2 separate regions of the Homo sapiens genome follow, and region 2 is linked to region 1. The links come from fine-mapping of genetic effects on gene expression. Tissue or cell type: whole blood. Region 1 holds a variant in brackets; the other region holds the start of a gene. All regions are shown on one strand. Distances are between the middles of the regions.

Region 1 (8,103 bases):
CGAGGCAGGTAGATCACCTGAGGTCAGGAGTTCGAGTCCAGCCTGACCAACATGATGAAACCCTGTCTCTACTAAAAATACAAAAATTGGCCAGGCATGGTGGCGCATGCCTGTAATCCCAGCTACTTCGGAGGCTAAGGCAGGAGAATCGCTTGAACCCGGGAGGCAGAGGCTGCAGTGAGCCGAGATTGCACCATTGTACTCCAGCCTGGGCAACAAGAGCAAAACTCTGTCTCAAACAAACAAACCAAAAAAACCCGATCTTTACTAAAAATACAAAAACTAGCTGGGAGTAGTGGCATGTGCCTGTAGTCCCAGCTACTTGGGAGGCTGAGGCACGACAATCACAGGAACCCAGGAGGTGAAGGTCGCAGTGAGCCAAGATCACACCACTGCACTCCAGCCTGGATGACAGAGGAGACTCTGTCTCCAAAAAAAAAAAAAGTCCTCAAGGAGCTTAACCTATAGTACATTATCTCCCTTTCTTCCCCCATTTAAAAATGGACAAAGCATTAGAAAACAAATCCAATAGAAGCCATCAGCTTTGGCCGGGCGTGTGGCTTACACTTGTAATCCTACCACTTTGGGAGGCAGAGATGGGAGGATCCCTTGAGGCCAGGAGTTCGAGAAGCTATCAGCTTTGTCAGCCCAAAAGTGGATATTTTTACTTAAAAAACAAATGCAGAAGTGAAAAGATGAAGAGCACTTGTATTGGAGTACACTGGCCTGGGTTTGAATTCAGACTCCCTCACTAACTAGCTAGAGTAACCTTGGGCAAGTTATTTAAACTAAGCCCCAGCTTCCTCATCTGTAAACAGAAATAACAGTGAACTTTTAAGTTGATGCAAAGATTAAATCAGATGAAATACAGACTGCAAGAGGTATAATGCCTCCTGTACATTAAGTTAGGTAACTGAAAAGATTAGGGTAACCTCCCCAAATGCCACCTTCCAAATCTGCAAAATGAGGATAATTATACCAATTTAATAGGACTGTTGTGAGGACTATGAAGATAATGCACAGAAAGCATTTACCATGACTGGCATACGATGGTACATATTTGCTTCTTAGAAATGAGTATTGGCCGGGCGCGGTGGCTCACGCCTGTAATCCCAGCACTTTGGGAGGCCGACGTGGATGGATCGCAAGGTCAGGAGATCGAGACCACAGTGAAACCCCGTCTCTACTAAAAATACAAAAAATTAGCCGGGCGCAGTGGCGGGCGCCTGTAGTCCCACCTACTCCGGAGGCTGAGGCAGGAGAATGGTGTGAACCCGAGAGGCGGAGCTTGCAGTGAGCCGAGATCGCGCCACTGACCTCCAGCCTGGGCGACAGAGCAAGACTCCGTCTCAAAAAAAAAAAAAAAAAAAAAAAAAAAGACATGACTATTAACAGTCAGGAGCAGTGGCTCACGCCTGTAATCCCAACACTTTGGGAGGCCAAGGTGGATGGATCATGAGGTCAGAAGTTTGAGACCAGCCTGGCCGACATGGTAAAACCCCATCTCTACTAAACATACAAAAGTTAGCTGGGTGTGGTGGCAGGTGCTTATAAGCCCAGCTACTCGGGAGACTAAGGCAGAAGAATTGCTTGAACCCAGGAGGCAGAGGTTGCAGTGAGCCAAGATCACGCCATGGCACTCCAGCCTGGGTGACAGAGCAAGACTCCATCTCGAAAAAAAAAAAAAGAAATGACTACTAACAAAAGTAAATGGGGAGGGTAGGCATGGCAGCTTTCACTAGTGAACCCCATGACTAAAGCTATAGAGAAACAGCTGGGAAAAGCAATTCTGGGGAAGAACACTATGCCCCCAAGACCAGGCACCAGGCAGAGACTCCCAGCAGACAGTTTGCCCACACAGTGGGATCAGATGCAGGTGGTTGTGAAATGACAAATGCAACCAAATCTGAGTCACCCAGGGTGACGTCCAGAGCGCGTGGATTATGGCAGCCTTGGCTTCGGTTGCCTCTCTTTCAGGCGCTTCCAGCTTTACCAGAGGCCTGAAAGAGCAAAGGAGAGGAATGGAAAGGGATTTACTACTACTACTTTGCAGGTTTTTAGAGGAAGGAGTGTTGGCTATGGAGGATAAAAATGATTTGGAGGAATTATCAGTAAAAGTCATTTATCCAGACTTGCTCTTGCCCCCAGTGAGGGCAGGTGAAGGCACTCCTTGTCTCCTTTTGGGCTGAGGCAGAGAACAGCAACAGGCAAAGACAGCAAGACTCCAAAATTGAGTGAGGGAGGGGAGAGTCAGTAGAGTGGGCTCAAGTGCCACACTACAACACCTGGGACAAGTAGGTTCACCAGCTCACGGTGCTCTGGGCCAGGTGTGCTGACTGACCCGTAGCTCCACTCAACAGACTGCTGGAAAGCTCTTGGCCCTACCTTCAGTAAACCAGAGGTCTTGGTATATACACCCGTCTACCAACATTATAAACAAGATAAATCAGTTCCGTAAACAAGCACCAAAAAGGGGCCTACCAGACCAAAGGGACATGAACCAAAACCTTCTATGTCAGGGCTAAAGTGGAACCCAGGTTCCCTGCTGCCCGGCTGCACCTTTCCGACAACAGGATGTTACCCCTCTCGAAGGTGGCTCACCTGGAATTGGTAACCACAAAGTCAAATATCAAGCAAAGTATGTGATTCAGCTTTTCAACAAGTCTATGGCTGTAAAGAAATAAAGCTTCGCTATGTGTGTACATCACTGCAGTGGCTTTAGGCAATTCAGATATCCTGGGTGCTGCCTCTTGGTTCATCCTGTACGAGCTGCCATGGGAGGCACTCTCTGCCTCAGGCCAAAAAGCAAACAGTGAAGTGAGCCACGGCAGTCACCCAAAGCACAGACACACAAACCACATGCCCACTGTTGAGGGTGTCTCCAAGGCCTAAGCAGGCCAACTGTGACTTCTCTACTCAAAAACTTTGGACTCCCTACCACTTAAATTAAGAAGAAAAGGTCAAATCCTGCCCCACCTTCCACCTTGCCCCACTATCCCTCCAACCCATCTTCTCAGACACCTTCCTCAACACCAAATTACACTGTAAACTCAAAACCAACCTGCTTTCCTGCTGGGCTCTCAGCCCCTACTTGTGCTTTTCCTAGAAGTGCAGACCC[A/C]CTCCTGCGAGCTTCTGTGAGCCTTGGCCTTCCCATGGGAACTTGGCTCAGGGTCCACATGGCATAAGAATTCCTTTCATAATGTCAACTCCCCAAAGGCAAGAAACACCAAACTCCACCATGCCTAAACCTAGCATAGCAATTGCTCAATTAAGGATATTTCAGATGAAGCTGGAGGTATTCAAATAATGTGTTAAGCTCAAAAGCATAACTTTTTTTTTGAGACGGAGTCTCACTCTGTTGCCCAAGCTGGAGTGCAGTGGCCCAATCTCAGCTTAGTGCAACCTCCGCCTCCCGGATTCACGCAATTCTCCTGTCTCAGCTTCCCGAGTTGCTGGAATTACAGGTGCCCACCACCACACCTGGCTAATTTTTCTATTTTTAATAGAGATGGGGTTTCACCATATTGGCCAGGCTGGTCTCGAACTCCTGAACTCAGGTGATCTGCCCGCCTTGGCCTCCTAAAGTGCTGGGATTACAGGTGTGAGCCACCACGCCCGGCCCCAAGACAAACAAATTGAGTCAAGTGGTAGAAACTCTCCAGGTATCACCGTATATTGAGATTATCTAAAAGAACAACTCTTAAAGCCTGCCATAAAGCTTCCTGGTCATGTGTCACTGGCTGCATGATCTCAGAAACAGGAGCATCTCTAAGCCTCAGTTTCCTGTCTTTAAAAAGGAGAAAATAACAGCTACACCTCATGAAGTTGTTGAGATGATTACACACAGAGACATACATGGTGCTCTGCTTCCCCTAAGTAGTGTGCCCTGGTCGAACCCACTAAAAGCAGCACTTTCAGACACTGCCTCCAACCCAGCTCCCCTCCAGGTCCCCCAAAAGCTCCACTTCAGCTTACCAGAATCCTACTTCCTCCTGCACAATCTCAAATGCGAGAACACATGAAAAAACAAAACTAAACAAAAAATGTTCGCCAACAATTCGGAAAATCATAAAATGAAACAATCTGTTTTCAGTGATGGAAATGATTGAGGTATGTGTTCTGTCCAACCCACCAAGTTTACAGGAGGCCTACCCCCATTTTGCACAACCCTCCCATCCAAGTCCCTTAGTCCATGAGTACAAGCTTTGAAATGTATAAAGTCAGGCTATAAAAAATTCGTATTTCTTCCCCAGAGGACTCTGAAAACCTGAGAGTACAAGGCAATGTTGTGCCTCTACAATAATTACTACACCATTAATTGTCTTTGGGGCCTGCAGTCTGACTTCCTTCACATCCACTCTAACTTTTCAGGCCTCGGGCACATGATGCTCCTTTGTTGGCTGTTTCAGCTGCAGTGAAGGGGGTGGATCCAAGCAGAGGACCAGGAACATCTGAGGGGCAGAGTCGTGACCCAGATGAGGGCACATGCTCTGCAGGTGAGCAGCGAGCTGGCAATTGCTGTAAGGCAGCTCCACCTTTTGAACAGATTCTATTTCCACCAGACGCTGCCAGCCCCTAAAGCCATCACCCACAGAGTCATCAAGACAGCAAATTAGCTGGCCCTCTGCTCACACCTATCCCACCCTGCAGTCACTCCCAACTGACACACCAAACTCGTGGTTACGAGGAATACATTGTCCCAGTTCAGCTCCCAGTGTCCATCCTCAATATTTTTGAGAAATGAGTCCCTCTCCTCTAAAGAATTCCAATCTCTAATGACCTTAAGTAAGTACCAACTAGTACAACACAATTAGGGAAGTCTAAACATTGTTGAATTATATTTGCTGAAAATAAATGTTCCCACCTTTCCCCTATCATTTAACAAGGCTTCAGAAGGCAGCCCACATATCCTGGGTTGAAAAATCTCTTGTAAAAAAAAAGGGAAGAAGTTATTCTGTTAAAGAGAATACCAAATTCCAAGTTCACACTGCAGTTTGCTAAACACCTTGTCTTCTCTCCGACTTAAATTTTCTAAAGGGTTAGCAGTTCTCTGAACCACAGAGCTGCTCACATCACAGTCCTGCTCCAAAGCATTTGATGGCTCACAACAGACTCCACCACCGAGCCCCCGTCCATTTTTCCAGGGCCAACACTTCTCATCATTCCAACTCAATACAACACGCCTAAGCCCTATCCTCTAGTCACATTCCACTTTTTGCCCTACCCTGTCCTCAACTAAGCCTCATATTTTCATACTCCAGGGCCTGTACTTAAACTGCTTTTTGCCTAGAAGGACGTTTTCCTTCCCCACATCATCCTCCTCCACATGACAAGCCCTGCACATTTGAGAGCATCACTTCCTCTTCTTTTCCCAACCACTTCCCACTTGCAGGCCCCTCCACTTGTCCTTGCTGGTTATGAGGCACTGACGAGTTTTAGGGCAGGGACCATGTTTTACCCATCCTTGCATTTCCAGAGGCTGGTACCCAGGGCAAGTGTCAAGAAACGGTTCTTGATGCAGGCTTGCTGATGGTGGTATTCCACAGATGGGAAAAAAGGAGCCCAGAATGCTGGCCTCCTAATCCAGATTGCTTCTCAGTATTATTTTGCTGAAACTACCCAGCTGCTGTGAGCAAAATAACAATGATAATAACAGTAGCAAATAGAGAAGATAGGTCAGTTATAACTGAGCTGGTAGCACACAAGACGTAATTCTCTGTTACTAGTTTCAAAACAGTCCTGCCAGCACAGTGGCTCATGCCTGTAATCCCAGCACTTTGGGAGGCGGAGGCAGGCAGATCACCCGAGGTCAGGAGTTTAAGACCAGCCTGACCAATACGATGAAACCCCATCTCTACTAAAAATAAAAAAATCAGCTAGATGTGGTGGCGTGTGCCTGTAATCACAGCTACTAGGGAGGCTAAGACAGGAGAATCGCTTGAACCTGGGAGGCGGAGGTTGTAGTGCACTCCAGCCTGGGCAACAAGAATGGGTCGGGGGGGAATCGAGGCCGGGCGCAGTGGCTCACGCCTGTAATCCCAGCACTTTGGGAGGCCAAGGCGGGCGGATCACGAGGTCAGCAGTTCAAGGCCAGCCTGACCAACATAGTGAAACCCAGCCTCTACTAAAAATACAAAAATTAGCTGGGTGTGGTGGTGCGCACCTGTAATCCCAGCTACTCAGGAGGCTGAGGCAGGAGAATCACTTGAACCCGGGAGGCGGAGGTTGCAGTGAGCCGAGATCGTGCCACTGCACTCCAGCTTGGGCGACAGAGCAAGACTCCGTCTCAAAACAAACAAACAAACAAACAAACAAACAAAAAACAGTCCTTCTCCGCAGACAGGAAGAAGCAGGAAACAGACCTTGAAGTACTTACCGTAATTCAGTATCTGCCAGTTCCATAACTTGCTCCGATGCCCTCACAAAGGAGCAAGGCACACTGGGAACCCCCATCCCAAACACACTCTAAGAGACAGGACAGCCTCCTCTCATTGCCCTCCAGTCCACACGGCTCTTCCTGCTTGAAAAGTAAAACAACAAAGAAACAACACCTCCCAGAGGCTATCACACTTGAGCACTGCCACATGTCACTGGGCCTCTTACAATCACCCCAATACCAGTTCTGAGGCAAAACCTTGAGTTTCCATATTATGTAAAATAATAAACTATTATAAAACAACAATGGACCTGTTCTCAAGGCACTGGCCCTACCCAATGCAAAACTAAATTCCCAAATGCTTATAGAGCTTAGAGTCTCTTCAAAAGTAGGCAACCTGTGAGTCTGAAACAGGGCTGAGTACTTTCAGGGAGGTTAAAAGTGGTGCCCACATGAAAGGTTTCAAGAGACAGGAGAGGCCCCCCCATTAACCACATGGAGGACTAGCAGAAGCCTGGAGTCCAAGGCCCCACTCTTCCACTTCTGGGACATTTCCCACCACGCAAAAGATCATCTCTGTTCTACACTCTAACCTTTCCAAGGGGAACAGGGTGACAATTCCATACTTGGCAGAATTTGTCCAGTGTTTCACCCTACCTCTCCACCAGGTCTTTCCCTGACAGTCTTATGCTTTAGTGTCTTGTTGACCTCCCTTCTATAAGGGCTCCCAAATTCCAGTCACCTGGTTTGTGTACTAACACCACTTTTGCAAACCCCTCACTTCCACAAAACACTGAATCTCCCTTCTGACCATCACAGAAGTGAAGATCTAGCTTATGTTGTCAAATACCAGCTAGAATAAGCTGTTCCACTGGTAAGCTGTAATCTGCTGTTTCCACAAGCCAGAACAGTTTTCCCCTCGATGTGCCTCACAAGGAAGGATCTGCACACAGCAGGTTTTCAGTGAGTTCTTGTTTGGTGAATGGATCATGTCTCTATGACAGGTAGTCTGCCAGAGGTCAGAAGCACAGCTCAGAGTCACACTTCACAGTTTGAGCCCTACTAGCTAGCTGCTTCTCTGGGTCTCAATTTCCTCATCTGAATCATGGGGATAACAACTGCATCTACATCATGGGGTCAGAGAATTGTTGTGATGAATGAATGAGATGATGCATGAAAGGAATTTAGGCGGCTGGTAACTAGTACAGGCTCAATAAATGTTAGATCTTATGACTGCTGCTTCTACTGCCACCATGCTGGGAGTATTTCTACATGAAAAGCCTAACAACCAACAAAGGGTGAAAACTAAATTATAACAATGGAGTCCCATGGAGTTACTTGAATGCTGGGAGTTGAACTTATTTAAAAGTACTCTAGACAGATTAATTTGTAATATAACCACTTGCAGTTTCTGGTGTTTAGGACTGGATTTCTGTGTACTCAGTTTCCTGAAGAGACACAAGAGGCAATGCTAGCTACCATGAGACTTCTGGTAGCTACCATGAGACAAGCTGGCCAAATGAGCCCTTCCAAAATTCCACTTCCTGCAAAGATAACAATGACATAAATCATGATCTCTAAATATAATAATTTGGCCAATGCTAACCACACCGCCTCCCCAATACACATATACTCCCCCCCTTTTCTTGAGCACACCACAAAAGGAACACATGACCACACAGCATCTACTCTCCAGGGCAGAATGGAAGGACAAAGGCACAAAGCAA
Region 2 (8,099 bases), 190 kb before region 1:
TGCTGAGTCAGTGGAGAACTCTGTAAGGTACAGTCACCTCAAAGCAGGGACAGCGTGCTGGCAGTCCTTGCTCGCTCTGGGGGCCTCCTCGGCCTTGGCGCCCACTCCAGCAGCGCTTGAGGAGCCCTTCAGCCCGCCGCTGCACTGTGGGAGCCCCTTTCTGGGCTGGCCAAGGCCAGAAGCGGCTCCCTCAGCTTGCGGGGAGGTGTGGAGGGAGAGGCGCGGGCGGGAACCAGGGCTGCGCGCGGCGCTTGTGGGCCAGCGCGAGTTCCGGGTGGGCGTGGGCTTGGCGGGCCCCGCACTCGGAGCGGCCAGCGGGTCCGGGCAGTGAAGGGCTTAGCACCTGGGCCAGCAGCTGCTGTGCTCTATGTCTCGCTAGGCCTTACCTGCTCCGCCGTGGGGCAAGGCTCGGGACCTGCAGCCTACCATGCCTGAGCCTCCCCGACGAGCGCCACCCCCAGCTCCACAGCGCCCAGTCCCATCGACCACCCAAGGGCTGAGGAGTGCTGGCGCACCGCGCGGGACTCGCAGGCAGCTCCACCTGCAGCCCCGGTGTGGGATCCACTGGGTGAAACCAGCTGGGCTCCTGAATCTAGTGGAGATTTAGAGAATCTTTCTGCCTAGCTGAGGGATTATAAACACACCAATCAGCACTCTGTATCTAACTCAAGGTTTATAAACACACCAATCAGCACACTGTATCTAGCTCAGGGTTTGTGAATGCACCAATTGGCACTCTAATCTGGTGGGGATTTGGAGAATGTCTAACTAAGGGATTGTGAATGTACCAATCAGCACTGTGTCTAGCCCAGGGTTTGTGAACACACCAATTGACACTCTGTGTATAGCTAACCCAGTGGGGACATGGAGAACTTTGTGTCTAGCTCACCAATTGAAAACACACCAATCAGCTCTAAAATAAACCAACCAGCAGAATGTGAAGCCAAATAAACGGAAAAAAAAGCAGGCTGCCTGAATCAGTGGCAACCTGCTCAGGTCCCACTCCAGTGTCCAGAATTGGGGGCTCATTAGCCTCCCTGACTTAAAGAATGAAGCTACAGACCCTCACAGTGAGTACTACAGTTCTTAAAGGCAGTGTATCCGGAGTTTCTTCCTTCTGGTGGGCTTGTAATCTCACTAGCCCAAGAGTAAACCCACAGACCTCCACAGTGAGCGTTACAGCTCTTAAGGTGGCATATCTTGAGTTATTCATTCTTCCTGGCGGGTTCGTGATTTCCCTAGCTTCAGGAGCGAAGCTGCAGACCTTCATAATGAGTGTTATAACTCATAAAGGCAATATGAGCTTAAAGAGCAAAAGAACAGATATTTTCCCAGCATGGAAAGAAACTGGAGCCTGTTGTCGCTGCTAAGCTCAGGGCAGCCTGCTTTTATTCTTATCTGGCCCCACCCACACCCTGCTGATTGGTAGAGCCGAGTGGCCTGTTTTGACTGGGCACTGATTGGTGCGTTTACAATCCCTGAGCTAGACACAAAGGTTCTCCACGTCCCCACTAGATTAGCTAGATACAGAGCGTGGACGCAAAGGTTCTCCAAGGTCCCACCAGAGTAGCTAGATACAAAGTGTCGATTGGTGCATTCACAAAGCCTGAGCTAGACACAGGGTGCTGATTGGTGTGTTTACAATCCCTGAGCTAGACATAAAGGTTCTCCACGTCTCCACCAGACTCAGAAGCCCAGCTGGCTTCACCCCGTGGAACCCGTACTGGGGCTGCAGGTGGAGCTGTCTGCCAGTCCCATGCCTGTGCACCTGTACTGATCAGCCCTTGGGTGGTGGAAGGAACTGGGCACCGTGCAGCAGGGGGTGGCGCTGGTCGGGGAGATTCCGGCTGCACAGAAGCCCATGGGGTTGGGGGAGGCTCAGACATGGTGGGCTGCAGGTCCCGAGCCCTGCCCCGCGGGAAGGCAGCTAAGGCCCGGTGAGAAATCGAGCACAGCAGCTGCTGGCCCAGGTTCTAAGCCCCTCACTGCCCCCCGCCTGGCCCAGTTGGCCGCTCCCACTGCAGGGCCCGCCAAGCCCACGCCCACCCGGAACTCGCACTGGCTGGCAAGCACCGCGCGTAACCCCAGTTCCCGCCCGCCCACGCCTCTCTCCACACCTTCCCGGCAAGCTGAGGGAGCTGGCTCCGGCCTTGGCCAGCCCAGAAAGGGGCTCCCACAGTGCAGCGGTGGGCTGAAGAGCTCCTCAAGTGCCACCAAAGTGGGGGCCCAGGCAGAGGAGGCGCCGAGAGCGAGCGAGGGCTGAGTACTGCCAGCATGCTGTCACCTCTCAGAAGCTTTGTTTTTTGCAATAAATCTTGCTGCTGCTCACTGCCTTTATGAGCTGTAACACTCACCGCGAAGGTCTGCAGCTTCACTCCTAAAGCCACCGAGACTATGAACCCACCAGGAGGAATGGACACCTTAACAGCTGTAACACTCACTGCGATGGTCTAGTAGCTTCACTCCTGAGCCAGTGAGACCATGAACCCACCAGAAGGAAGAAACTCGGAACACATCCGAACATGATGAAGGAACAAACTCTGGACTTTAAGAACTGTAACACTCAGCACGAGGGTCTGCGGTTTCAGTCTTAAAGTCAGTGAGACCAAGAACCCTATTCCAGACACAGCTCTGACATAGAGTGGCAACACTGGTAGCGTGCACAGGAGCAGAGGCAGCAGCAAAGTGAGAGGAGGCCCTCCACTTATGCTGGGCGCCCTAGTAGCAGCAGCAACACAGCAGCGGTGCCACTGGTGGCCTGGCAGAGTGGAATTTGGTTGATTCAGCCCAGCACCATCAGGCTGTGACTTTAGCAGACTGTAGGTAGTGGTGGCAGTGGGTCCAAGCTGCATTTACAGCCCCCAGGACAAGGAGACCTGAAGCGGAAACAATGCAGGAGTAGAACAGCAAATGTCCTAGGTCAGTAGTGTATGGAATCTGGAACCAGATAGCCTTGTTCAAATCTTGCATCTGCCGTTTGCTAGCGTTTTGAAGCTTTGAGTAAATTACTAACCTCTCTGGGTCTGTTTTCTCCTCAGTAAATAATATCCAGCTCATAGAGAGGTTTAGAAAATTAAATGAAAAAGCACAGCTCTAAGGAGGTGATTGACAATAGTAAGCATATGATTTATTTCCTCATCTTTATGACATCTCACTCTGGTCCAGACCAAGATTACTTAATATTCAGATTAATTTCATGAACTGCTATATTACTCCAGCAACTCAAATCCAAAATAGATGAAAAGGAAACTAAAGAAAACTGGACAGCCATTGCTGCACCTATTGTATAGTTACAAATGCTGACTACATACCAAAACACTGTTTAGGTGACTTATAATTCTGGAATGTCACATACGAATTTAAGAATTGCTGGCCAGGCGCAGTGGCTCACACCTGTAATCCCAGCACTTTGAGAGACCCAGGCGGGTGGATCACCTGAGGTCAGGAGTTTGAGATTAGTCTGGCCAACATGGTGAAACCCCCGTCTCCAGTAAAAATACAAAAATTAGCCGGGCGTAGTGGTGCGCGCCTGTAGTCCCAGCTGCTTAGGAGGCTGAGGCGGGAGAATCGCTTGAACCCGGGAGGCGGAGGTTGCGGTGAACAGAGATGGTGCCACTGAACTCTGGCCTGGGCGACAGAGCAAGACTTCGTCTCAAAAATAATAATTTAAGAATTGTCATTACTTAACCATGGGAGAGGGTGTGGGCAGACAGGGGACAAAGATTTTCCACTGTGTATTTTCATGGTTTTTCCTTTGAACAATGTCCTCTCTTCCAACAAAATTTTTTGCTTTTAAGTGCCACATAAAGGCAGCTCATGTTCCTTACATCGCCGTTATCAAGAGGATCGTCATTCAAATAAAGTAACCACTGACAATGCTAATTAATTGGAAGTAAAGAACTGGGCGGAAAGAACGGCTAACCGCAAGCTGCCGGGTCGCAACTGCGGCGGAAGGCGGACTCTCGCGGGAGCCACAAAGAGGCAGCAGCCGGCCACGTGACTTCCCGGTGGCCTGCTCTCCCCACCTCTCCGCGCTGAGCAGCCACGTCGGCGGCGGTCCCTGGTCCAGGGAGGGGCGTGGCAAAGGCCCGTGCGCGGTACGTGTCCCGCCCCTCGCTGCCCGGAGCCCGGATGAAGAGTAACGCCATTACCGCCGGAGCCGCCGAGAGCCTTAGCCGACGGAAACTGGACACTGGACCGGCAGCGCCATGAGACTCCTCCCCCGCTTGCTGCTGCTTCTCTTACTCGTGTTCCCTGCCACTGTCTTGTTCCGAGGCGGCCCCAGAGGTGAGGCTGGGGGAGTGTGCGGAGGGGATGGCCAGGAAGGAGATGCCAGTGATGGCAAGTTTGAAGTTGGAGGCGGTGGCCGCTCCGGGTCCTGGGGTCCGCGTCCACCCCGCTGGCCTCTCTCCGCCCTCTCCCCAAGCCTAGGCTCGTAGCAGCAGGGGTCCCCGCGGGCGCTGGAGACCCCGCTGCGGCCTGCCCCTTGCACGCGGAGCGCGGGGCCGTGCCCGGGCGACCTTGCTTCGTGGCCGGCCGAGGGCTGGGCTTGCTCCTCTTGCCCTGGACCCTCGCCTGCAGGAGCGGCCAGAACTGGAGGGTCCTCGGCTGCAGGAGGAGGCGCTGGACACGGCTGCGCTCCGAGCGCGCCGCAGCCGGGCTGTTTCTTTTGGCCACCTCCGGCTCCGCTCCACCCCCAGCCCCTCGCGCTCAGGGCTGACGTGTCTTTAGCTTCCACGCCGGGAGTCCGTCTTCATTCATTTGCCAAAACCCTTGTTTTCTACACATCTAAGCCATCAGAGTGTCTTGTTCAATGGTCATCTGCCTTGTTCACGCCCTGCTTGACCCGTATGTGTTACTAGGAGGCTTGATTTCAGAAAAACTACCCCATCGTCACCCCCGTTATCCGCCCCTGCTGCCAAGCAGACTGAAGAATCCCTGTGGGATGTCTCCCTTCTGCCTTCTTCCTCTTCTTGTCTTTCCATGGAACAATTTTTTGTTTGTGGAAACATCGTATTGTGCTGAAAAAATGTGGCCTACTTCGAGTGTTTTTAATACATAGATTTATTCTTTCAACAATTAACCCAGCAATTAAGTGTGAAAATAACTTAGCAGAATATAAAAATATGGCAACTTGACTTCCTGCACAGGTTTTGTCGTGAACTTCGACTTTCTAATTTGTAAAGTGAAATAATTAGTCTGACTAAGCATCCCTTTCATTCTGTAAGTTTAAGCAAGCTGTGTGTCTTAACGGTAGTGACAGGTATTCACGAGTTGTTTTGCGATGAAAAGTGAAGTGACTGGCTTCTGTTTAATGGCTAGAAAACCAAGTGGGAGAATTAAACAACTGTTAATGAGTTAATCTGCAGGTTTAACAAGATTTTTTACTTTAGGAGTCGTTTGCTGGTACTCTTTAAGCTTTTTAAAAGAAAACTTGACAAATGTAGTTTTAGTTTTAGAACTATTTATAACTATTTTCAAGTTATAAAAACTTTCAAGAAGCATGAATTCATTATCTAAACTGAATTAATATCTTGTAAACATTTTTTGTGAGAAACGGTTTTTGTGTTTGGTTTTTCCAGTTGAATGAAGACTGTTAGACTTCATGGGGACAAAATTGTTATTGGTTAACATTAAAATAATAAAATTGTTTAATATTTATGAAAGGCCTTTATATTCCAAAGTGCTCAAATTTAACCACGACTTTAAATTACTATATCAGACATGGTATTTTTCTTACTGGTTTTTGAAAAGGACTTGTAAGTTATGAATGCACTATTTTAGGCTTTGTTCAGCAGGCAGTGAAATCTCTTTAGTTCATAATGCATGGTTCAGTGTTCTTTAATATTTTGCAATAAATCTTAGCAGCCAGTGAGAACTTAAAGACATGGAAAAGACTGCAAATGCATGGTCCTTAACTGTTTCTCCTGGGTGAAAACACGCTTCCCTTCCCATGTTTTTTATCCACAGAATTGCCACATCATCATTTTTTCTGAGAGATGTTGGAAGACACTAGAACTTTGAAATTCTTTTTATGGTCTTGCCTGAAATAGATATAATGTGACTTACTTAGAGTACTATTGTCTATAAAACTGTGATTCACCTTTTTTTTGCATTATACCTGTACTTTGTAACACTAAGTTTGAGAAAAAATATCTTAAAACATGTTTGAAGCCACATGCAAAAATAATTGGATTCTTTCTTTGCTATCAAACCTGAAGCTACCAATACAGTTTTTACTAAACAATGTTTTTCATGCAAGCCAGTTTTTACCATGGATATGATTACAGATATTTGTTCCTTGGCTTACAAACTATCCAGTTCTAAGAGTTTCAGCTGTAGTCACCTCTGATAACAGTGTTTCCTACATAGAACATTAGAACTTAAGAATGCTTTATTTTTTTATTTTTATTTTTTTGAGACGGTGTCTTGCTGTGTCGCCCAGGCTGGAGTGCAGTGGTACAATCTTGGCTCACTGCAACTTCTGCCTCCTGGGTTCAAGCGATTCTCCTGCCTCAGCCTCTGGAGTAGCTGGAACCACAGGTGTGTGCCACCACACCCAGCTAATTTTTGCATTTTCAGTAGAGGCGGGGTTTCTCTGTATTGGCCAGGCTGGTCTTGAACTCCTGGCCTCAAGTAATTCACCCTCCTCAGCCTTCTAAAGTGCTGGGATTACAGGCGTGAGCCACCGCGCCGGCCAAGAATGCTGTTTTCTTTTAAACGTGGGGGTTGTTTAGTTTGCTTTGTATGGTTAATGACAGGGATTACATTTAGAAGTTTCTTATCTTTGCAAAAAATTATTTTCCTTAATTTGCTTAACAAAGTTGCTTGAAGTTCTTTGTGCTTCAAGGCATCTTTAGTTTGTGCCATTCATTTTTCCATCTGTTGGGCACTTTTTGAAGTTAAACCACATTTCCCATTAAAAATAACATGGAAGGCAGGGAACAGTGGTTCACGCCTCTAGTCCTAGCTACCCAGGAAGCTGAGGTGGAAGGATCACTTGGGCCCAGGAGTTTGAGGCTGCAGTGAGCTATGACTGCACAACTGTACTCCCAACCTAGGCATCAGAGCAAGACCCTGACTCTTAAAAAAAAAAAAAAAAAATTGATATGCAGTTGTTAAGACTACTAGTAAACTAAAATATAAATATTCTTCGGTGCATTGTAATTGGCATCATTCAGGTGAACTGGGAGATTCTGTTAGTCCAAGGGAAGTTTTTTTTGCCTATACCTGATGTTAAAAAAAGAAATTAGTATTTCAGAGTAAAGGGTAACTGCTTTTTCTGTATTTTATCATTAGGCTTGTTAGCAGTGGCACAAGATCTTACAGAGGATGAAGAAACAGTAGAAGATTCCATAATTGAGGATGAAGATGATGAAGCCGAGGTAGAAGAAGATGAACCCACAGATTTGGTTAGTGTTACATACTATTTAATATATGTAAAATGTATGTAATTGTATTCATCTGTTCTCATGCTGCTAATAAAGACATACCCAAGACTGGGTAATTTATAAAGGAAAAAGGTTTCATTGACCCACAGTTCAGCATGACTGGGGAGGCCTCAGGAAACTTACCATCATGGCAGAAATTGAAGCAAACATGTCCTTCTTCACAAGGTGACAGCAAGGAGAAGTGCAGAGCAAAGGGTGGGGAAAGCCCCTTATAAAAACCATCAGATCTTGTGAGAACTCACTTTCACGAGAACAGCATGGAGGTAACCGTCCCCGTGATTCATTTACCTCCCACCAGGTTCCTCCCACGATGTGCAGATTATGGGAACTACACTTCAAGATGAGATTTGGTTGGGGACACAGCAAAACCGTTATCAATAGTACATCTAGAATTTATCCTTACTTATTTATTTTTAGAGACAGAGACTTGCTCTGTTCCCCAGGCTGGAGTGCAGTGGCACGAGCATAGCTCACTGCAGCCTCGAACTCCTGGGCTCAAGTGATCCTCTTGCCTCAGCCTCCTGAGTAGCTAGGACTACCGTCATGCCCCAACAAGCCCGGCTAATTTTTGTAATTTTTTTTTGTAGAGACAGGGTCTTGCTATGTTGCCCAGGCTAGTCTAAAACTTCTGGGCTCAAGTGATGATCC

Evidence for each region. PIP is the estimated chance that this variant, and not a neighbour inherited with it, causes the effect.
Region 2: SSR1 starts here. The variant in region 1 is fine-mapped to the expression of SSR1 in whole blood (TOPMed, PIP above 0.99).

The regions. Positions count from the first base shown.
Region 1 is chr6:7,124,205-7,132,307 of GRCh38, reverse strand. The region is part of intron 1 of RREB1 (ras responsive element binding protein 1); the gene reads right to left. Among named protein-coding and RNA genes, the nearest start is that of RREB1, 20 kb to the right of the region's middle. RefSeq lists an enhancer at 7,429-7,947. The variant A/C (reference allele first, on the strand shown) is at 3,119.
Region 2 is chr6:7,309,230-7,317,328 of GRCh38, reverse strand. It overlaps SSR1 (signal sequence receptor subunit 1), which reads left to right and starts at 4,130. Exons shown (of 8, transcript NM_003144.5): 1 at 4,130-4,287; 2 at 7,300-7,412. The coding sequence starts at 4,209. RefSeq lists enhancers at 3,755-3,814, 3,825-3,894, 3,231-4,097, 4,098-4,966 and silencers at 4,385-4,494, 4,625-4,674.